Regions from separate parts of the Homo sapiens genome. Here region 1 is linked to region 2. The links come from fine-mapping of genetic effects on gene expression. A gene starts in region 2. The other region holds a variant in brackets. All regions are shown on one strand. Distances are between the middles of the regions. Region 1 overlaps SMG7 (SMG7 nonsense mediated mRNA decay factor). Region 2 holds the start of SMG7 (SMG7 nonsense mediated mRNA decay factor).

Region 1 (11,511 bases), 81 kb after region 2:
GTGGGGAGTATAAAAGATGGAAAGAAAGATGTATGCTATGAGGCTTTTTCCCCTCTCTTTATTACACCTTAATAAAACATAAAAAGATAGTAAATTTTACTTTCTTGCTGTTTCTTTCTCATAAACACAGGGCAAGAACACATTCGTAAAATTAAAGTACATTAATTTTAGTGTCAAGAGAAATAAAACCTTAACAGCTTTCATGACATTGCTGCCATCCCTGGCACTTGAAGTTCCCTTAAGAATTTGCCTGGGTAGTAGCAGTAGGGGCCCCATACCAAGTTATTAAATAATAGCAATAAAAGATCCCCCTGGAGACTTAAATGGTAGCAGTGCCATGGCTGAGCGCACAGGGATTGTGGAAGCTCAGCTGCTATACTGTTGCCTCTCTATGTTTGCCTTTCTTGTGGCTTTTATGCTAGAGTGGCTTTAAGGACTGAGGGTAGTGCTTCTCTGTCCACTTGTTTCCTAATCCCTTAGTTCCTGTTCCTGTTCCCTTAGTGTCCCTTTCATTGGAAATGGAGCTGATGGTAGAACAAGTGGGAGTATTTTCAGGGTTTTTTTTTCATGTTTAAAAGACAACAATGAATAAAAAAAACTTCGACTATAACCCTTCCAATATTTAACATTAATGATACAACGTATGTCAAAGTGCTTCTCTTGTCGTAGGTATTTAGTAATGTTTTATTAGCCAGCTATTCAGTGACAGCATTAGAGATTCAGCTTTGTTTCTCCTAATAACTTTGCTAGGGCCAATAAATGTAAGCTTGACTTTTAGCAACTGTTTTACTATATACTGCAAATAGAGCTGCTTAAAAAGCATATTAACAAAGCCATTTGTCAAATGGATTTGAAAGGCTTTTTAAAAGTCACCAATGTTAATGTTTTAAAAATTGTGGGGTGGAGAGAAACAGTGTTGGAACAGTTCAGCATTTTGTTTTGAGATTAAGTGCAACTATTGACAAGGGGATTCCTGAGGTCCATGCCTCATAAACACTCAGAGTGCTGTTTACCAGGGTCTCTGGTCCCTGCCAGAATATAATCTCTGACTAGGTTTGATCTAAAAGGAGGATTCTATGCACCTGTGGCAACTGGCACTTAGGCGGTGTCTTGGTGTTAACAGATTTGAATTCACATCTTCTGAGCCTCAAATTGTACTCAGTGGGCGAATACAGGCATGCTTTTGCTTTGGTTCCATAGTATGGTAAGATTAATATTAAGAAAATAGAAGGTATAACTTAATTACCTTTTTTTCTGGGACTGTGAAGAAATCCTTATTGGAGAAGCCCTCAGAGCTCATGTCACATTCATCCTCTTTCCTGTCCCTCACCGGATTCTCTCTCAATCAGGTAGGTGAACAATGAAGAATCCTGCTGTGTGCTTTTAGTGTAGACTGATCATTGTCTTTCTCATACTGTTTCAGTATGTCTGTTTTTTCTTTATTTTCCATGTATTAGTGTATTCCAGATATTTGATTTTATCCCCCTTGTCTCTGATTGGGGCATACTAGTGACTTGTACATCATGAATTAAAACCCTTTAACTTCTCATTAATATTGAAACCCTTAGGGCTCTCTTTTTGAGCCAAATAAATTATTCACATTTTCAACCTGGATAGTTTACACAGAGCAAATTTAAGGGTGAGAGAAAGCAAAGAGGAAAATTAATTTGACTGGAAAATTGAAACAAAAAGAAATAAAAGCCTTCAAAATTTCTCTTCCTAAGAAAAGCTTAAGGTGTACCAAGCATCCATGAACAAGACATTGGATTTTCTCAAATCTCTTTCCTTGGGGTGAGTTTATAACTTCACTGTCATGTCTTTCAGGAAAGATACCCAAATAATAGTATGTTCAATGAGGTATATGGGAAAAACCTGACATCCAGCTCCAAAGCAGAACTCAGTCCCTCAATGGCCCCCCAGGAAACATCTCTGTATTCCCTTTTTGAAGGGACTCCGTGGTCTCCATCACTTCCTGCCAGTTCAGGTATTAACTACTCTTTAAATTATAGACCTTACATTTCCTGTACACTCAGATTGATTAAGGGATAGTGAGATTCTGTAATTACAAATATATCATTTGTTGGGTTATTTTTATTTTTTGTTTGTTTGTTTTTGTAACTTCTGAAAGGAAATAGAAAAAAAAAAAGAAGAAGCCGGTTTATGTAATAAATGCTACTGACAAAACTTTTTACATCCTCAGTAGCCAGCAGAGATGTAAGGGAGAAAATAGAGGTTCTATCTTATGGTTCTCAGCTGCTTTTTAGTTTTATTTGTAGGTGTTCATTCTTTGCAGAAAAATTGCACTTTTTTTTTTGAGACAGTGTCTTGTGGTGTTGCCCACTCTAGACTCAAACTCCTGGGCTCAAGCAGTCCTTCCATCTCAGCCTCCCAAGTAGCTGGGACTACAGGTGCACACCACTGTGCCCAGCTCTGCACTTTTTAAAATTGAGATTTTTAACTTAGAGTCTGACTTAATAGTAATTCTTAAGGTTAGCAAATTCTTTCTGATACATAAGACCAATAAACATGTATCTGAAATAGCCGTGTGAGAATAGGGCATTCATTCAGTTGACAAAAATTGCCTACTATTTTATTTTGCTTTTTTAAGGCGAAGAATATGCCTTAGATATGTGTGGCAGGGCAAATTAGTGCATCTAGCAGATCTCTTTGGAGCCTTTAGTTTCCCTTTCCTTCAAAGCCCTGTGGTTATTGTTAGTAGAATTTTAGTGATCAGATCTACAGGAACCTGTAGTTCTTTGTATGTTTGTGAAACAATGATTTACTATATCCTGTGTTGCTATTATTTAATAGATCATTCAACACCAGCCAGCCAGTCTCCTCATTCCTCTAACCCAAGCAGCCTACCCAGCTCTCCTCCAACACACAACCATAATTCTGTTCCATTCTCCAATTTTGGACCCATTGGGACTCCAGATAACAGGGATAGAAGGACTGCAGATCGGTGGAAAACTGATAAGCCAGGTGAGATCTACATTTCATTGCCAGGCAAAATTGAAAGAATTTACTCTATCCTTCCCTGGGGTCTGGCAATTGGCAGTGATAGAACATCTTCTTGAATTTTTCTTATCTCTTTTCATCCCTTAGCCATGGGTGGGTTTGGCATTGATTATCTCTCAGCAACGTCATCCTCTGAGAGCAGTTGGCATCAGGCCAGCACTCCGAGTGGCACCTGGACAGGCCATGGCCCTTCCATGGAGGATTCCTCTGCTGTCCTCATGGAAAGCCTAAAGGTGAGTAGATTTCAGGAACAAGAACCACAAGATTATTACAGCAAAGGTGTCTCTGCTTTCATTCACATAAATAGCTAGACTTCTCAGGCCCTCGGAGTTGACTGATACATAGCACATATATAACAAAGTCCTAGAAACATGGTCTGCCTTACAAGATTCTTGAGTGATAATTTTTAATTTCTGAATTCACTAGTGGTAAAGCAGTATCTTCAGGAGGACAAAAACAAAGGTTTTAGTTTCATTCTAAGGTTAAGAAAATTCTGATTCATTTTGGAATGTTTGATTTAAGCCTTTTCTGACAAAATAAGAGTATCTAATTTTAGAAATGTTTTATTTGCCTGAAAACTTTATAGTAAATGCCCTGTGTGGTACCACATACAGCTGAGTTTCAGTAAAAAGACTTGACATAAAATGTGATTTCACTTCTTCTGGTTTAAAATAGTCTTAATGGAAACTAACTAGCTTTAAGAGTCTTATAATGACTTTTTCTAATAGCTGGATTTTTATGGGGAGTGGGGTTGGGTTTTGGGGCCATATATATGCCTTTATATTTGGCTGGGATTGAAAAATCCCTTTCAGACAACTTGGCATTTGACCTCTGCTGACAAGATCTGGACTGTTTTTCAGTCTATCTGGTCCAGTTCCATGATGCATCCTGGACCTTCTGCTCTGGAGCAGCTGTTAATGCAGCAGAAGCAGAAACAGCAACGGGGACAAGGCACCATGAACCCTCCACACTGAGGCCAAAGTGGCAACCTGGGAATGAAGGCTCCATAAACCATGGCATGTTGGGTTTGCAGGACTGGCCCACACAGTCCCCTGCAGGTGGCAGCCCTCTTTTCTGTTTCTCGCTGTCAAGAGGGTGTAAGTATTCCACCAGCCCGCTGAGTGTGCACGAAATGTTCGCAGTGCAACAAAAAGAAAAATCCATCAGGAACTCTCCGTCCCCCCGGGGCCCTCCGGAGGGAGAGAGAGAGGAACTGCTGTTTATCTCACTCAGTTACTTGGTATCACCGCCTCTCACCTTCTCCATCGTGCATGTCCCCAGCCACATGGGAAGTGAAAGCTGAGAAGGGAAGGCAGATGGGAGAAGCCAATGGGAACTTCTCAGTCCTTTTTTCCTCTTTGGGGAATAAAATAGGAATCCATTAATGATTGCTTTGCTGACTGAGAATGTAGTTGAAATTATTCTTAAACATCTTTTATTATTATTACTCTCAGTAGTAAAATATCACACTGAATTCTTCCATACACAGGTGTGCTTCTAGTCAGTGTGTAGCAAGGAAAGCCCCGTTCACTGCTCCTGTGAGAGGTTGGTGGTGACAGGATGGGGAACCGACCTCTTCAGCCAGTGGAAATGTTCCATAAGGGAGAGTTCAAGGCCTGTCAGAAGGCTCTGGTAGGCCTTCCTCTGGCCAGGAGACTCCAGCAGGGAATGCCCTTCACTCTGTAGGTGCTCGAGCCCCAATCGAGGATACAGTGTGGGTGGTGGTGCTGGGCTGGACTAGCAGGTAGACTGCTGTAGGATTTCAAATTACGTTTTTGATTCCTGTACATTTTACAGTCGCACAGCAAGCAGTCTCACAGAAGGCAGGCTAGTCCATTCACAGCCTGACACGTTCTAATAGGTAGAAGCTTTCAGTGTGGTTATTTTTTCTTTGGTTGGTTTTTGTGCCCCCATTCTACTTCCCACCCTCCTGCCCCATCTCCATCCCTTCTTTTACCCAATGCTGTATGCTAGTAATTGTTTTTATTCCTAATGTGTGCAACATCACATCTCCCCAAGAAGCAACAGCATGGGGTCCAGCAGTTGGGGCCCAAAAGACAGTCTGAAGAGGAAGGAAGCAGCAGTATCTGCGTAGCCCACAGAGGGCCCAGGCCCCTGCCCAGCTGCAGTCTCCCAGCCTCCACTTTCAGAGTGAAATTCAAGGCAGCACGGACATGTGCCCATCAGGCACAGAAGAAAACACGACGTCGTCCATTTTGGAAGAGACGAAAGAAAGGAAAATAAACTCTTTGTATGATATTTATTAGGAGGAAAGAGGACTGAAAATGTTCTTGTGTAGAAACAGAAGGACAGCATTTCTGTTAGTCATTTCCTGGAAAAGTAATATTTTAAGGGGAAATTATGGAAACAATCTAATTGTTCAATTGCTGTGCTAGTGGTAGGGTTTATTTTCTGGGAGGTCTCTCCTTTGTGTGTCTGTATGTTTGTGTACACACACGTGCCCATCTGCTGTCCCAGAGGGGAGGGGTTGTGTGTGCGAGTGTATGGAGTTAGTGTGGAACTTAAGAGCTGGAAGACAGCTGTAGAGCAAAGCACATCCAGGAGCCCCAGTTGTCACTGCAGTCTGGGCAACCCCAGCAATGAAAAGGGGTGAGATAACGCTCATTGCTCTTCAGAGAGAGTGGTTGGAGCCCCCCCCGCCCCGTATGCTTACATTATTGCTCTTTTAGTTTGACATGGTGTTTGGGTTTTGTTTTTTTGAAAGGTCTGAAAAGGTGAAGCCCCCTACCCAATGGCAATATGAAACCTTTTGTGCTTCTCTTCAGCCCCTTCCCTGTGTCCACCTTTCTCTCCTCTTCCCAAGCCTTTTTCCTACTACCTTTACCCAGTTTGTGTGTTTGAGCTCTGCATTCAGGCAGCTGCAACATTCCAGTGTTTGAACTGTCACTGATTCTTGCGCCCTAGACAAGCTAACCAGGTTTACCATCTCACTCCCAGTAATACCCAGCTCCTATCTAAAGCCCCATTCTGCATGAGAATTTGGTGTTTGGAATGTTTTCTGACTCTTGGGGCGGGATTCCTCGCCTTATCATCCTCACTGTGGAGTAATGAGGGGGAGGAGAATCTTTATCAGAAACTGGTTTTGTGTAGTAAACTTTCTTTTGTGGTTTTTTGTTTTGTTTTCTGGGTTTTGTTTTTTGTTTTTGTCTGTGCAAGACCTGCAGCTGCTGAAAATCAGCTTTGCCTTTAATTAAACCATGTTCTCTCCAACCAGATCTGTGTATCGATTCTTTCTTTTCTATCCTAAAAGATATAAAAGAAGTATTGAAGAAAATCCAACTTAAAAGGCAAGAATTTCAACTACTCACAGGTCATCCAGGGAAAGGCATAAATGGTCAGAACTTGAATATTTTTCAGGGTTAATTTTGCTTTTAGTAGCATTCCAAACCAATGAATTACGGAAATTATAATTAATTGTAATGGAAAGGCATGAGTAG[T/TAAGA]AAGAAATCGATTATCAAAATTCTTTTATTTAATAAAAGAATGCCTTATGTTAAGGAATTAAGAGCCCATCATTTTTATTTTTATTCCTATTGTAGCTGTTACTGAGGCAGTTCAGAGAGTTTATCCTTTTGGCCTGTAAAAATTCACTGAATCTGATTAGCAGCAACATTAATTAATTCTTCTTCTTAGCTTTGGGGTTTCTTTTCTTTGAGTTGTGTCCAAAGTTTCCAGTGATTGGTAGCTTGCTGGGTCTTCCAACTGTGTGCTGGAAGCCAGTGGTATAGCTAACCTTAATGCCTGTGTGCTCACCCTGACCGGCTATCCTTTCACCTGCATGTTGATTCAGTCTGCAGTTCACTTCCTTATTCTGCTTTTCACAGGCGCCTGCACACTTGAAAAATTGTTAGCAAAGCTCCACATACGCTACAACAAGAAGTGGGTAGGGAGAGGAACTAAGGCCAGGCCTTAAGGTCTAATAGTTTAGTTAGTTACAGAATCCTTCACCCAAGTTAATCCTGAAAAATTGGACAATTGGGTTAGCCAAATCCATAGCATTCTGTTATGTATATTAGTATAGCATAGTATATGCAGTCATTTACCATATAACAATGTTTTGGTCAACAATGGACTGCATATACAATGATGCTCCCATAAGATTATAATACATTTTTGCTGACCTTCTCTATGTTTGTTTACACTGATGATACTTACTTACCATTGTGGTATAGTTGCCTGCAGAATTCAACATAGTAACATGCTGTACAGGTTTGTAGCCTAGGAGTAGTAGGCTATACCTGGTAACCTAGCTGTGTAGTAGGCTATACCATCTAGTCTTGTGTAAGTGCACTCTAGATGAGTTTGCACAACACGTTTCTCAGATCATGTCTCCATTGTGAAGCAGTGCATAACTGTATTACGAAGTGTCAGCTAACAAGATACTACTTACGAACTAGCTTCATGAACACCGCTGCTTTTCATCACTTAAATGTTGGCGATTGATATATATTCAGTATTGAGTTCTTAACACATGTTCCTCTCTGAGAATGTACAAAGGTATGTAATTCTATTAATTCTCTGTGGAATTGAGTGTTGTAGTCCATGAGAACCTAACTCAGTCTAGGTTCTGTTTAAGCAACAAGACATAATGAAAAAAGAAAACAAACAAGTTTATTTGTATATGCCTTATGAGTAACCTATAAGGTTACTTCAAGCCTTAAGAGCCAATTACAGTAATGGTTCAGAAACAGGAATATTTGTACTTACTCCTTGGGCCTGGACTTGGGTGTCTTGTTTTTGTAAGATGCTAGGTTTTTTTTTATTGTGGTATGACACAGAAAAGTGCACCAAATGTACAGCTTGATGAATGTTTACAGTGTGAACACAGCTGGCTAGCTAGCACTCAGAGCAAGAAACAGGATCAGTACCTGGAAGACTCTCTCGTGCCCTTTCCAGACACTTCCATCCACTTTTCCTCTCCCCTAACTCCTCCATTCACCTGTCCCCATCTCCTCACCCACTGTGCCCCAGGAAATCATCCTGGGTACTCACATCATTGTCTAGTAGGTTAAATTTTAACAGGGAATAAATAGTTAACACTTCCAAACTGTAATGTCTCAGTACAGTATACAGCAGAAGGGTGCTAAATCTTACAAACAAGTAATAGGGCTTCATTTTCTTCAGCTTTGTAGTTTGTGAAACATCCTAGACTTCTCTCCGAGTGCTTTCCAAATCTGTAGTTGCGCAGTCTTCAACAAAAACTTTGGGGAAAATGCCCACCTTCCCTTTGCACTCCCCTTCCAGCCATTCTTCATTCACTGATAAAAGGAAAAGTACACATGGATTTCTAAAACCACTGTAGGAAGATTACCCTGTCTGGCTATTCCACACAGAATTTGTTATCTGTCACCCTTCCCCACCCCTAATTGTGATCAACAGGGAAAAGACAGTATTGCAAAGTGGTTTGAGAGTGAACACAGGGTTTAACCATCTTATTGATCTGTCTTAAACATGATAATGAGCAAAATGAAGAAGGATAAATTATGTTTTTCAAAAAGTTACCAGATAGAGAAGAAGGGTCAAAGAAATTGAACAACGAATCCTTAAATAGAATTTCTGTCCTTTCCCCACCCCCAACCTTGACAGGGTCTCACTGTCACCCAGGCTGGAGTGCAGTGGCACAATCTGGGCTTACTGCAACCTCTGCCTCCTGGGCTCAAGTAATCCTCCCACCTCAGACTCCCAAGTAACTGCAACTACAGGCTGTGCCACCACGCTTGGTTAATTTTTGTATTTATTAGAGACAGGATCTCGCCATGTTGCTCAGGCTGGTCTCAAACTCCTGGGCTCAAGTGATCCACCCAACTCAGCCTCCCAAAGTGCTGTGGTGATAGGGGTGAGCCACCGTGCCTGGCCCAATTTTTTAAGAGAGGAGAGAATTTTACCTGCGCTTTGTTGGGAATCTTTGTTTTGACTACAGAAAAGGGACATGCCATTGGTTAAATATATTAAAAATGAAAGTTCTTTAGTAAACTTTCTTCTTTTCACTGAACTCCATTAAACAGGTGAGCTGGAGCTAGTGATGGGTTAGTACATGTTTGTTAAATATAAATATTTTAATAGCTCCTACTCAGAGCCTTTAATAGAGTGCAGGCATTGTACTTAAAAAATATATTCAGACTTCATAATAACTTGTAGGTATCCATATTTTACTAAGGAAAAGGAGACCCAGAGAGATGAATAGTTTGTTCAGAGCCATTCTGCCAGTAAAAATCAGACAACTTAGGTATGATCTCCAAAGCCCACCTACCTGACCACACAGCCAGTTCAGAAGTTTGTCTTTGTACATCTAGATCAGACATTAAGGCACTGGTGCCTGGATCCTGCCCCCAGAAATTTTGCTTTAATGTGTGGTGTGACTGGGCAGCAGTTTTTTCAAAAGTTCCCTTAGGTAATTCTAACTGCAAATCACTGTCTTGATTCTTCTTACAGGGTAGGTCGTGGACTGGAAGCATATTAGAAATGAAAAATCCCAGATCCAAACCAGAGTCAGAATCCATTTAGGAAGATTCGCAGGTGATTCACATGCACATTAAAGTTTGAGAAACACTTTGTAGATGAGACCATCTCATAACTTGAATGCAATTGAACTCCCCTCTGTCCTACCCTGACCGCTAAATTCTGTTTTCTGTTGAAGTGCTACAATATGGGTATTTCCTCAACTTAGACTTGTACAGATAGGTCATAGTAAGACGCATACTGGCTTCTCTCCATATCTACCCAAAAGGTTGTTTTAGTGTGTTCTTTCATTGTATTCCTGCTCCCTCTCCCAAACTCCAGACAATTGAGCTGGTTGGTTGATTTAGGCACCTTTAAAGTGGCACTTGGAGGTGTTCAACCCAGTTCTTCCCACTGAGTTACCATTCTCTCTTGTTGGAACACTCTGCTTCTATATTACTACTACTCATATTTTTTTTTTTGAGACAGAATCTCACTCTGTTGCCCAGACTGGGGTGCAAAGGTGCAATCTTGACTCACTGCAAGCTCCATGTCCCTAGTTCAAGTGATTCTCCTGCCTCAGCCTCCCAAGGAGCTGGAACTACAAGTGCACGCCACCACGCCTGGCTAATTTTTTTATTTTTAGTAGAGATGGGGTTTCACCATGTTGGCCAGGCTGGTCTCAAATCCTGACCCCAAGTGATCCACTCACCTTGGCCTCCCAAAGTGCTGGGGTTACCAGCATGAGCCACCACGCCCAGCCTATACTACTCATATTTTTAATTAATTGCTACACACTTGTTGTATACTCTCTCTACCCCCATTAACTTTTTTTTTAATTTTAATTTTTTTGTTTTTGTTTTTGTTTTTTTTTTGAGACTGAGTCTCACTCTGTAACCCAGGCTGGAGTGCAGTGGCACAATCTCAGCTCACTGCAACCTCCTCCTCCTGGGTTCAAGAGATTGTCCTGCCTCAGCCTCCTGAATAGCTGGGATTACAAGCACCTACCACTATACCCGGCTAATTTTTGTATTTGTAGCAGAGACAGAGTTTCACCATGTTGGCCAGGCTGGTCTTGAACTCCTGACCTCAAGCAGTCAGCCCACATTGACCTCCCAAGGTGCTGGGATTACAGGCATAATCCACTGCACCCGGCCTATTTTTATTTTTTTTAAGACAGAGTCTCGCTCTGTCACCCAGGCTGGAGGGCAGTGGTGCAATCTCGGCTCACTGCAACCTCCACTCCCGGGTTCAAGCGATTCTCTTGCCTCAGCCTCCCTAGCAGCTGGGACTACAGATGTGCATCACCACGCCCAGCTAATTTTTACATTTTTAGTAGAGATGGGGTTTCACCATGTTGGCCAGGTTGGTCTTCAACTCCTGGCCTCAAGTGATCCACCACCTCAGCCTCCCAAAGTGCTGGGATTACAGGTGTGAGCCACCAGGCCCAGCCTACCCTCATTAACTTTAAAATTTCCCCCTCTCTTTGTCTGTTGGATTTTCTGTTATAATTGATGGTAGTTTTTCACTGCTTTGCATTGGTAGTGCACAGACTCAGCGTATGAGCAGGGCTTTTATGATGGGACTTTTTTGTGTCGAGGTAGAGAATTAGGCTGGCAAACCACGAGTTGGAATGGTGCTTCTTAAGAGTGTAGGCAGTAGACCAGCATCACCTGGAAACTTGGTAGAAATGCAAGTTGGTGGGCCCCACCCCAGACCTGAATCAGAATCTCTGGAGGGTGGGCCCAGGAATTGATTTAACAAACTCTTCCAGGGATTCTTAGAACTCTCCACTTTTAAGAGGTGGGTCTTGCTGTGTTGCCCAGGCAACAGCCTTGAACTCCTGGCCTCAAGTGATCCTCCTACCTCAGCCTCCCTAGTGGCTAGGATTACAGGCATGCTGTTTCAATTTTTAGTCTGTTCATTACAAACAGAATCAAGAAAGTCACCAGAGACACAGGATAGTTCTGAATAGCTGGTTTTTAAGGCAAAATTTACCTACTTTTCTCTTTGAAAAGTACATTAATTCAAAGAACTATG
Region 2 (11,511 bases):
AGAACAGCATGGGGGAAACCACCCCCATGATCCAATCACCTCCCTCCCTGGACACGTGGGGATTACAGGTCCCTCCGTCAACATGTGGGGATTATAAATAGAGATCAGATTTGGGCAGGGACATAGGGCCAAACCATATCAGTGTGTGCATGTGTACATGCATGTACATGTTTCCCATGGTTTTGAAGAACAGATTTATGACAATGAATATCAGTATCACATTCTTAGTGCTCCAAATTACTATCTACCTGATAAAAGTTAGGAAAGTAGAAACTAGAAAATATTAAAAGATTATGTTATTTTAGTTGGGTGTTTTAAGAAAAATATGGCAACTTCTAGGTAACTGAACAGACTTTGACATGAAATATGTTGCTGTTAGATTAGGGACCCACAAGATGATTTCAGTAAGTACTGTGCTTCGGGTAGTAAAGAGATGCATGAACACTAAGGCCTTCTGCCAATAAAATAAGAGAGGCTACGGTTTTTGTTTTTGTTTTTCAATACTTTTCAATCTTTCCTATGAGCATCTCTTCTTGTCTTCTCCAGATTGTGTCCATTAAATCAGCAGATAAGAATTTTAGGTGTGGTAATTTCTCAGAGGTATTTGCTTATTGGGAGTTGGGGGAAACCTTGAAGATAGTAAGATTTCCCTTAGTAAATATTAGGAGAATGGAGAAGTGAAGGGGGAGAGAAAGCTCTGAATATTATTCCCCAACTGTCACCTCAGTGCCTCCCAAATCAGAAGTTTCTTTTCTTCAATCTTGGACTGCAATGATTCCCGACTATTCTTCAGGCTAAAAGACTCCCTCTTTGGAGTGAATGAATAAATATACACTTGGCAAACTGTTTGAAAAAGGCTACTGACCCTTGATCTAAGAAATCTTGAGCAACAGGAGACCTGAATTTAAATGTCAATTTGTATCTGACTCACTATTTGAAGAGAATGAATTACTCATTTGATTGAATCACTTAACTCTATGGTCTGAGGTGTGGTACTGAAGAGGAATGAATGGCTAGCTTCACACATATTGTGTACTGAGTATGCAACTGATAATAAATGTGTTTCTGCTTTGATGAGAATGATTTACCAAGTTCCTAATTGTGCACAGGATTTATAAACATTCAGAATATATAGGATAAATATTAAAATAAATTAGGGCTTGTTACGATGTCATGGCACAGGCTGTCTATTATTATAAAAAGGGAGGAGGCCTGCTATGTATTAATCGTCAGGTTACCAAAGCTCTGGGTAAATTTGGTAAGAATGTTAAGAGTAGCTTCTCAGCAAGTACTGTGTTTGATTGAAAAGAGGCCATTCCATCTACTTGGACAGAAATGTGGTTATATTAGCCTGTTTTATGTGATAAAAGGTTTTTGAAAAGTTTTAAATCTCTAGCATTGGACTCACAATGTCCTAATATTGTGTTCTTTTCTGTAATCAGTCATGAATAAAGAAATCTATCTTCTAGCACTGGATGCCAATAGATTTGAATGTGAGTTCAGACCTATGAGTATTATAGACAAAGACTAGATTGAGAGCTGGGTACAGTGATTCACACCTAAAATCCCAGCTACTTGTGAGGCTGAGGCGGGAGGACTGCTTGTGGCTAGGAGTTAGAGATAGATAGCCTGGGCAATACAGTTAGGCTGCATCTCTATTTAAAAAAAAAAAAGACTAGATAGAGTATTATTTTAAAAAATAATGTTATGCTGTAGTAGTTCTATTTTACTCTTTTTAGCTTGATATAAAAGAGCAAAAGGGACTGGGCAAGGTGGCTCACACCTGTAATCCCAGAACTTTGAGATGCCAAGGCAGGTGGATCACTTGAGGTCAGGAGTTTGAGACCAGCCTGGCCAACATGGTGAACCTTGTCTCTACTGAAAATACAAAAATTAGCTGGGCGTGGTGGCACACACCTGTAGTCCCAGCTACTTGGGAGGCTGAAGCACAAGAATTGCCTGAACCCAGGAGGCAGAGGTTGCAGTGAGCTGAAATTGTGCCACTGCACTCCAGCCTGGGTGACAGAGTAAGTCTCTGTCTCAAAAAAAAAAAAAAAAAAAGCAAAAAGGCAGAAAAAAATTTAATGTTTATCAAGTTCAGTGTTGTATAATGGGCACTCAATCATGTATGTCATCATTAAAGGTCACAGGAAGCCTATAACAGGTAATGCTTCCATTTTGGTCAAGGAGCAAACTGAAGTTCAGACACCAAGATGGCAGAGTTAGAATGCATACTCAGGTCCGTTAGCTTGTGATCTTTCCATGAAATCACTTAGCCAAAAAGACAAACCCAAAAACAAAATCTGGTAGGATTAATGTAAGTAAGGAAGCTTCTCTTTAATTTCTTTTGGTTTAGATGTGATCTTATATCTGTAGGGGGGAAAAGGTGAACAATATCTATTGCAAAAAGAAAGATGTTTGTAATTCTACAAGTTTGTTGACTAGGACAAGTGGAAATAGATGAAAATGGAAAATGTGTATTAAACAGTATATAAATAGAAGGTAATAATTTTTCTGAGTCCTATTGATTTTTGAAGGTAATTTTAATATTAGTATCAAAGTCTTCTAATCTCTAAAATATACTACTATTCTTCTATTTAGCTAGAGATATTGTAAAGCTATTGAAGACTCTTATAAGATTCTTAGGAAAGCTGCTATAAAACACAGACTTTATTATTTCTGACCTCATGTGTTCCTACTTTGTTCTTACCCCAATTACTGCATCCCTCATATTGCATCCTAATCATTACTCTGAGCTCTCTACCAGCAGTTGGGTTTCCTCAAGGCAGGGACCAGGTCTCTTTCACTGTGGTGTCCATCATAACCAGAACAGTGTCTGAAATATAATAAGTACTCAGTAAATGTTTATGGAATAAATCAGCAAACACTAACAAAAGGATTCATCTTTCTGATCCGTTTCTCTATTTCCAAAATGAGAAGATAGTAGTAATATTTTCCTAGATTGCTTATCAGGAATGTATGATAACTGTTCATACACTCTTTATTGGAGATATGTGCCACAGACATAAATGGCTATTACCATGATTAGTAAGGGGGTAATTATTACAATTTTTATTCTGGTTGAAATCTAACCAATTAAAAAATCTAACCAATACACGATCACACTGGTCTTTAAATTAAAAAAAAAAAAGAAAAATATCTAACCAATAAATTTTCGGAAAGAAATGTAGGCTATTTGAGGTAATAGGTAGTAGGAGTGTCTATCCTTGGGCGCTCATGGTAGAAAGAAAAGCAGAACCCCACCGCGGAAATGAGAATAATCCCTCACTAGGTGGCTCTCTTTGCCGTGAGTGGGCGGCGCGTCGGGGCGGGGCGGGTGATTGGGGGCATTGTACTGCCGCAAGCGCTGCGTGTCACGCCGCACCATACCAGGCGCTGGCAGCATGAGGGGCATAGTCCACTTTCTATTTCGTTAATGACAATCTGTCCTTGGAATTTATTTCAAAGCAGGTTGTACTTTCGTTTCCGCTAAACTTATACCTGATGTTTCAACTGAACATTGGTATAGTCTTATTGGTGCAGGTCTCAGAGAAGGATCTTGAAAGTGCCTCTTCACCTGGCGTAGAAAAAGACAGCAGGAATCAGGTAGCCAAACCAGACCAAACCAAATCAAAATAGCCCATTAAAATCCTTATTTTAACTATCCTATGAGGGCTGCATTCTTGGAAGGTTTTATATAGTTACATATCCTAAAGTACTTTGGGATAGCTCCTTAAGTGACTCCACAATACGAACCGAAAATATAACTTGTAAAACGTCAATTTCTTCAAGTCATGGATGATGAATTTTCCAGCTATTTCTCATACACTTCATATTATTATTGACTTCGTTCTTTATTTCAGCTTTTTGGCCCGAAACCTGACACAAAACACACATAATAAATATCCAAAAAGATTTGTTCTAAGAATGAAACTTCTTTTCCTAGACTCCTTTCACCAGACAGATGTATCTAGGGTTCGTTCTTCTTGATCCTCTTTTATCCGATGTTTTCCTCTCTAACTCAACGACACAGAATGACGACTTTTAAAACACTGCAGACCCGTGAGAAGAGAAAGGTTGCAGAGCAGGGAGGAACTTGGAGGTCTGCCTTTAATAATCAAGCAGGATCCCCACTGCGGGGTGCCTATCAGAGTGATGGCGCTAGTCAGCCTTCCGGCTTGTCCCCGGCTTAAATGATAGAAAACCACGTGTTAGCCTTCTAGGATGTGTTCCCACCCTCACCCTGGCCTCCTCGCGGCAGGCTCGCGACAGCTAGGTCAGGAGGGAGTACGCGGGTGGGGTGGATTTGGGGGAGGGGTCGACTCGCCAGAAGTCGGCTATCCCCGTCGGCAGGGAAGGCATCGCGGCTGTCGTGTGCCGCTCTCCTCCCTCAGGGACCCCGTCCAGGCGGGATCCCGCCTCCCAGAGCCCAAGGCAGTTGTGGGGAAACCCCTTGCCCTTCCTCGCCGCTTGGCGCTGTCGCCTCGCCCTCCCGACTCCAGCCCGCCGCCCGCCAGCCTCCAGGCCATGCATCCTCTTCGCAGGCCCAGCCCTCTCCACGCCCGGCTCTGAGAGGAAACTACGGAGGTGGTTCCCGCTCGCAGGCGGGTGGAAAAGCCCATGGTGAATGCCTCGGGGTGTCCCCCCAGTTGCTGTGGGAAGTGGGAAGGGAGGAGGAAGTGGACTTCACCACCGGGGAGAACTATATCGATTCCTAACTTGGGGGAGGCCTTTAGATGGAAGGGAAGCCAACGGGGAACCCTGGGTGGTTTCCTGGGAATCCATTGGCCAAGGGGAGGGTGACCCTGTCCGCACACATCGGTTACTATGACAATATAACCACAGCCTCCAGTTGCCATGGCAGCTGCCTATCCAATCCGATTGTCTTCTCTTCCTCTCCGGGCCCCACCTTATCCCCTCCAAGAGTCTCCCAGCGTGCATGGGGAGGGGCTGCAGCGAAGAGGAGAGGGGGTCCTTCGAGTCACTCTCTACGCGCGAGGGAAGACAGGCGTTGAGGGACTGCTGGGAGGAACTGTAGGAGGAAGGGGCGGCGTTTCCGGTGGGGAAGAGTGGAGGCGTGCAAAAAGGAAGAGGGAAATCGGCAGGAGTGATAAGAAGGGGGAAGACTTTGAGTGTAACTCCCGTTCTTTTGGCCTGGGTGTTCCCGGTGGTGGGATTGGGATTGCCCCCTTGCGCGGGAGGAGAAGGGTGGATTGGCAGGAAGCCGCCAAGCGCCACCAGCCGGTCTCTCAGAAGCCGCACAGGCGCCACACAGCTCGTTGATCCCAAAAGGGAGCGCTACAGAGAGGCGGAAATCACTGAGGGACAGGCGCTGCTGAAATCTCGCGAGAGGGACCCCCTCCCTCGCCCGGTCGCCGACTTCCTCTGCTTCTCCTCTTTCCCCCGCCCCTCCTCCCTCCCCCTCCCCCCCGGGTCGGAGTGTCCCTGCGCCCCACGGGCCAGAGCAGCAGCGAGAGCAGCTTTCCCCACTCCCTCCCCCTCGCCTCATTCACCCCCACCCCCCTGCCGAGCGAGGAGGAGCCGGAGGAGAGGAAGATGGCGGCGGCCGCCAGCACCCGCGGTGCCGCGGGGCCGCTCCGAGGAGCCTGAGAGACCCACGGAGGCTTCGCGGGAAGACGCGGCGGCGGCGGCGGAGGATGAGCCTGCAGAGCGCGCAGTACCTCCGGTGAGTGCCGAGGCCGGGCTGGTACGTAGGGGGAGCGGGCCGCAGGTTGGGGCATGGAGCAACAGACACCGAGGTAAGTCCGGGGTGGCGGGGGAGTTGCTGCGTCCTCTCCTCGCCGGGCAGGTCGGCGGAGACTGCAAGGGGATCTGCGGGAGGGGGCGGAACGGGTATGGGTGCCTAGCCCCTACCGCCCGGGCTGAGCTCTGGCGAAGCCGGCTCGTCCCGGTGCGAGGAGGGAGGTTGGGGAAGCGTGAGAATGTGCGCGCGCGCCCTTGGTCTCGGGTTTGCTAGCGAGGGGTGGAGAGAAACGTCCGGGGAGGCGGCGGCGACCCCGAGTGGAGGTGGGTGTGGAGGAGTCTGATCCCCGTGGCAGGGGACTCGTGGTGTGGCGTGGGATTGGTTGGAGCGATGCATGAGTAGAGGACGGGGAGGAAGTCTGCACACCTGGGGTGTTGGGGCGGGGGAACCGCGGAGGGCAGACAGGGGGAGAGGGAGACCGCAGGAAACTGGAGCTTGTTCTTCATTCTCGGGTTGGGAGTATTGAGGAATAATGTCATCTGTAGTTAGTTGGCGGTGTGGGGAGGCGTGAAGGGGAATAGATGGGGAAGTGAGGAAAGAGGGAGGCACTGTGGACAAGGTTGGGTTTTTCAGAAGAAACTGGGTTAGAATCAGTGTAGTCGGAAGATACCATTCTGAGAGTCGTGTGTATTCATTAAGAGTGGTGTAAGGAACTTGTATGTCAGAGGTAGAGTGACACATGGGAATAGTGTGTGTGTGTGCGAGATGTGTGTCTGGGGTGGGGGGCGCGGCGATTGATGCACATTTCAGGATGAAGATGTAGATAGGTTGAACTTAGTACCTGATGGCGAGAACATATTGAATGGAAGGACACCAGCTTTTGTGTCAGCTGAAAGGTTCCATGGAAGCTGAGTAAGAGCTTGGAGGCAGAGGTAAAGTGGGTCAAAAATCTTGATAGAGAAAAGTAAGGTTGTTAGATCCTGAAATTAACTGGGGAGTGACTACTGCTTAGAAAAGGGGAAGACTTTAAAATTGGTCCTTTTTGTCTTTCAGGAGCAGAACTAAGAAAGGGAGGCCTTATGGAAAGATGTTTTTTAAAAAATTGTTTCATACCTTGCGGAGGAGGGAGTTGGATGAGGTGGAAGTCTGAAATGAGTGGAAAAGTCACTTTAGCTGTTTAGTGACATGAAAGTATTGACGTGTGTGGATCCCTATATGTATATTGCAAGAGGTGTGTAGTTACCTGATACATAGGGTGGCCATTATAATTTTTAAAGTAGTAAAGTTTTATTAAGCATAATAGGGAGAGAAGAGAATGATGAGATATTTGAACAATGCTTGAATGCTTGATTTTAACACAACATATATGCCCAGTGACCACAGGACAGTTGGAATGATGTCTGTAATTTGAGGTCCTTTTTTTCATCTTAGATATCCCTTTGTTGTTTAATATTTCAAATAAATATAGCTATGACAAAGATCTGTTGTAGGTGCTATAGAGAGATGGAAACCATCAGGGTGCTGATTAGTCTTAAGGAATTTGCAGTTGAGTATCTGTTAGGCAAGTAAATTAAACAGCACAGAGTGTAAGTACCATGAAAGATACCAAACGTTGCCGGGCACGGGGGCTCACGCCTGTAATCCCAGCACTTTGGGAGGCCTAGGCGGGAGGATCACCTGAGGTCAGGAGTTCAAGACCAGCCTGGCCAGCATGGTGAAACCACGTCTCTACTAAAAATACAAAAAATTAGCTGGGCATGGTGGTGGGCGCCTGTAATGCCGGCTACTCGGGAGGCTGAGGCAGGAGAATCGCTTGAACCCGGGAGGCAGAGGTTGCAGTGAGCCGAGATGGCGTCATTGCACTCCAGCCTGGGCAACAAGAGTGAAACTTCGTCTCAATAAATAAGTAAATACATAAATAAAAATAAAAGATACGAAGTGTTTTGAGTCCAAAGGCAGGAGATCACCTGAGCAATGGGAGGAAATCAGGAAAGACTTTGTTTATTTGCTCATTCATGTACTCATGATTCATTAGTTGTTTTGTTGATCACCTGTATGGGAGGCATTGTACCAACATCTGAGAATAGAAAAAGAACAACTCCACCCTCCTTTTACAGAGCTTACACTTTGTTAGACTTCAAGAAAATGGCACTTAGGATATTGTTCATCCTTAATGTTCATTTTGACAGATGTGGATTGAGAAGCGGGGAATTCCAAATGGAAGGAAACTGAGCAGAGTTATGTAGGTAGGGAAGCTGGGGGGAAGGGAGGTATTCAGTCCAGTTAGACAACAAGGTAGTGTGATATAGCTGAGAAAACTTAAGAGTTGTAGAGATTATCAAGTTTGACCCTTTCCTTTTACACATGAGGAATGTAAGCCCAAAGAAGGTAAAATTGTTGAGGCTCATATAGCTGGTATGTGGAAACTAACTGAAATGTAGGTCTTCTAACTTCAAGTCAGCTGTAGTACACTGCATGTCAGTATTCATCTGTTCTTTCCACAAATATAAGTTGAGAACATAATATATTCTAGTGTTGAGGGTACACTGGTGAATAAAAGGGTGAACATGGGAGGATATATTATAGTAGAAGGGCACAGTCAGTAAACATAGCAGTTAAATATATATCAGGTGGTCACAAGCACTAGGAAGAGGAATAAAGTAAGACAGGGATGTACTGTTTTATCTGGACAAAGTGGTCGGGGAAATCCTATTTGATAAGGTGACCATATTTAAGAGGATCCTGAATATCATGTTCCATAATTTATAGTTAAAATGGGTAGACAATGGAGAATCTGAGATGATTTGCTAGAATTAATATGTTCACAGCTATGTGTTAGGAAAATGACTCTGTGTAATGTAGTGGTGGATAACAGAGAAAAGTAAGGTTGTTAGAGCCTGACATTAATTGGGGAGTGACTACTGCTTAGAAAAGGGGAAGACTTCAAAATTGGTCCTTTTTGTAAGGTTCTTTTCCTTACAAAAGATTCCCTTTGGGACTTTGGTCCTGAATAAGGTACTGGCAGTGGATCTAGAAAGTTATGAAAAACAAATTGGCAGAGTGGTGGTACTTTTAATGGGGAAGATCAGTGGACTTTGAGAGGCTTCTTGTTAATGTGCCTTATATTTTATAGCTTGACATGGTAGGGAAGACTTCCTTAGATGTGGAATCAATGATAGTTTGAGATGAACTTAGTTCTTTGAAGAAGGGAGAAAAAAAATGAATACAATGATATTTTTCAGCTAAAATTGAGCAGGCAAAATGGGGGAGGCATAGGTCCTGGGGTCCCTTAAAGATTCCTGGAGCCAGTCTTGTCTCAATCTTAGGCATTTGTCCTAAGTAAATTAAAACAAGTGTTAGAAGTCTGAGACCTAGGTGGTGGTTGTGGGAATCATAAAGGCTTGTGCCAGTCTGAATTTCCCTCCTCCTCTTTTAGATAATCATTCCATTTAAAGTCTGCAGTGGGGACACTAGAGAATGTCTTTAGGGAAGCATTATGTTCACGTTCTTTGAAAATAGAACTGTTGGTTTTTATAGACACTTCAGGGAGGATGCCGAGTATTGCTGAATGGATGTGGTTGGGGGGTGTAGCAATTGTTTTCGTGACCTTGACTTGAAGAATTTTCTTGCCTACCTTTGTCAGTGGTGGAAGATCATGACTGGGCAATTTTTAATCTCTATAGCTACAGATCCTGCCTCATGTAGATGAAAATTAGTTTTGTCTTGGCTGAATTTTAATTTGTTAGAGTAAATGAGCTGGGATGTCTGGCATTGAAATGGTGGGGTGGTGGGAAACCAAGGAGCAAGATGGCTGTTTCAGAAGGGTCAGAAATGAAGATAGGAGGCAAGAAGTCCCAGTAAGACCAATAAAGAGAGAATTCAACATCAAGGGAACTGAATTAGTCTCAAGTTATAAAAATAGAGCAGAGATGAAAGGAAGAAAACCTATCTTCTATGTGGGAAAGATGATGATATTCTGGGCAGGAAAGGATAATGAAATTTTTTGTTTGTTGAAAGGTAAGTATCTTTTTAATACACTGACAAGACTTCTAAGAGAATCAGTTAAGTTGAAAATACTTTGTTATGTTTTATAAAAATAAAAATATGATCTTAAATATGAGGGTTCTAGGCCGAATAACATTGGGAATTTATTACTCAAATTGAAGGAGAATTCAGAGTATTTTCTCTTTTGATTTATGACAGAATGAAAGATTTTAAAAGACTTTGACACCTCTGTTGAGTAAAAGAAAGGGTGTATTGAATACAATTCATTTGATGGGGGTAGGAGAAGGTTAGGATAGGCCGCAGGTGAGGTATAATATTATGCTTTAAAATAATGGCATTTTGAAAAAAAGAAAAGTGGAAATTAACATATCAAAGTTGGAAAAGCAGGAGTGGGGGAAGTATTAAAGTACCAGACAGAGAAGACATCAAAGTTGTTTTGGAAGATGAGAAAGTAGAATAATCATAGCTATAGGGAATACCAGTCAAACAGGTCAAATCCTGTTATAAAAGGTGGCACAGGTGCCACCGAATGACTTCTGCTGCCATTGTGGGAGCCACTGTTCATACTCTATGCTCCCTTCAACTTTCCTCCTTTTCTTCCTTCACTATTCTCTTTTGTCTCTAATTTCTTCCTATGCTGTGAGTGTTTCAGTGAGATCCACTTGAAGTGGATTCCTACTGTTAGACTCCTTTACAGGAAAGGTCCAGAAAGTATCTGTTTTGTTTTGTGTGTGTGTGTGTGTGTGTATGTGTGCATATGTGTATATATACATATATACATGTGTGCATATGTGTATATATGCATATATACACGTGTGTGCATATGTGTATATATGCATATATACATGTGTGTGCATATGTGTATATATGCATATATACGTGTGTGCATATGTGTATATATGCATATATACGTGTGTGCATATGTGTATATATGCATATATACGTGTGTGCATATGTGTATATATGCATATATACGTGTGTGCATATGTGTATATATGCATATATACGTGTGTGCATATGTGTATATATGCATATATACGTGTGTGCATGTGTATATATGCATATATACATGTGTGTGCATATGTGTGCATATATACATGTGTGTATGTGTGTATGTATACATATATGTATATGTGTCTATGCACATATGTGTGTATATATACATATATTTTTTGTATGATACATGTATAGTGAAGACGCTGCATCTCAGTGGCTCACTTGTCAGAAGTTTTGTTACTAATATAACAGCCACAGGGTTGTTTTCTAAGCCAGCAGAAAAATGGTTGTCATTTAAATAGGAAGTAAAATATCCAATATGGTATAAAATAAAAATGTATCACTATAAATCTTGAAACAGAGAGATAGTGGAGATAAGGCTGGATAAAGTAGCAAGCTAAGCCTTATCCTAGCCTGGGGAGAGGAACAGAGAAGATAGTGGGAGCATTGGGAGGAATATATAAATAGGATGGTCTCCAGGTTCTAGAAGAGTCTAGTAATGCTAGATCAGATAGTCACTGTATCCTGAAGCTTCTAGAAGTCTTAGAGCACATGCTGATTTTAGTCCATGTGGTCCACGAAGTCTTCTTCACCTGCCCCATCCCCTTCCTTTCCACCAGGTACATGCTTTACAGAATGTAAAGTAGCTTTTGTCCCGGAATATCAGCCAAAGGTGGTGACATTTTTTGAATGAATGACTGTCTCTTTAGGCTTATAAGTCTTTGTTATAACAGTGTTAATAGCTTATTACCTGCTTGGATATTGTCTGACTAAATTATTTTGGCAGTTAATTTCTGCTTCCCTTG

What was found.
Region 1: its variant is fine-mapped to the expression of SMG7 in whole blood (INTERVAL, PIP above 0.99).

Annotation. Positions count from the first base shown.
Region 1 is chr1:183,547,940-183,559,450 of GRCh38, forward strand. It overlaps SMG7 (SMG7 nonsense mediated mRNA decay factor), which reads left to right. Exons shown (of 23, transcript NM_001375584.1): 19 at 1,269-1,349; 20 at 1,825-1,984; 21 at 2,812-2,982; 22 at 3,106-3,251; 23 at 3,879-6,252. The coding sequence ends at 3,992. It overlaps NCF2 (neutrophil cytosolic factor 2), which reads right to left. Exons shown (of 15, transcript NM_000433.4): 15 at 7,623-8,291. The coding sequence ends at 8,179. Among named protein-coding and RNA genes, the nearest start is that of NCF2, 37 kb to the right of the region's middle. The variant T/TAAGA (reference allele first, on the strand shown) is at 6,477.
Region 2 is chr1:183,466,964-183,478,474 of GRCh38, forward strand. It overlaps SMG7 (SMG7 nonsense mediated mRNA decay factor), which reads left to right and starts at 5,536. Exons shown (of 23, transcript NM_001375584.1): 1 at 5,536-5,686. The coding sequence starts at 5,658. It overlaps SMG7-AS1 (SMG7 antisense RNA 1), which reads right to left and starts at 5,019. Exons shown (of 5, transcript NR_040063.1): 1 at 3,757-5,019; 2 at 3,502-3,577; 3 at 2,711-2,836. RefSeq lists silencers at 3,212-3,401, 5,374-5,523 and an enhancer at 4,587-5,218.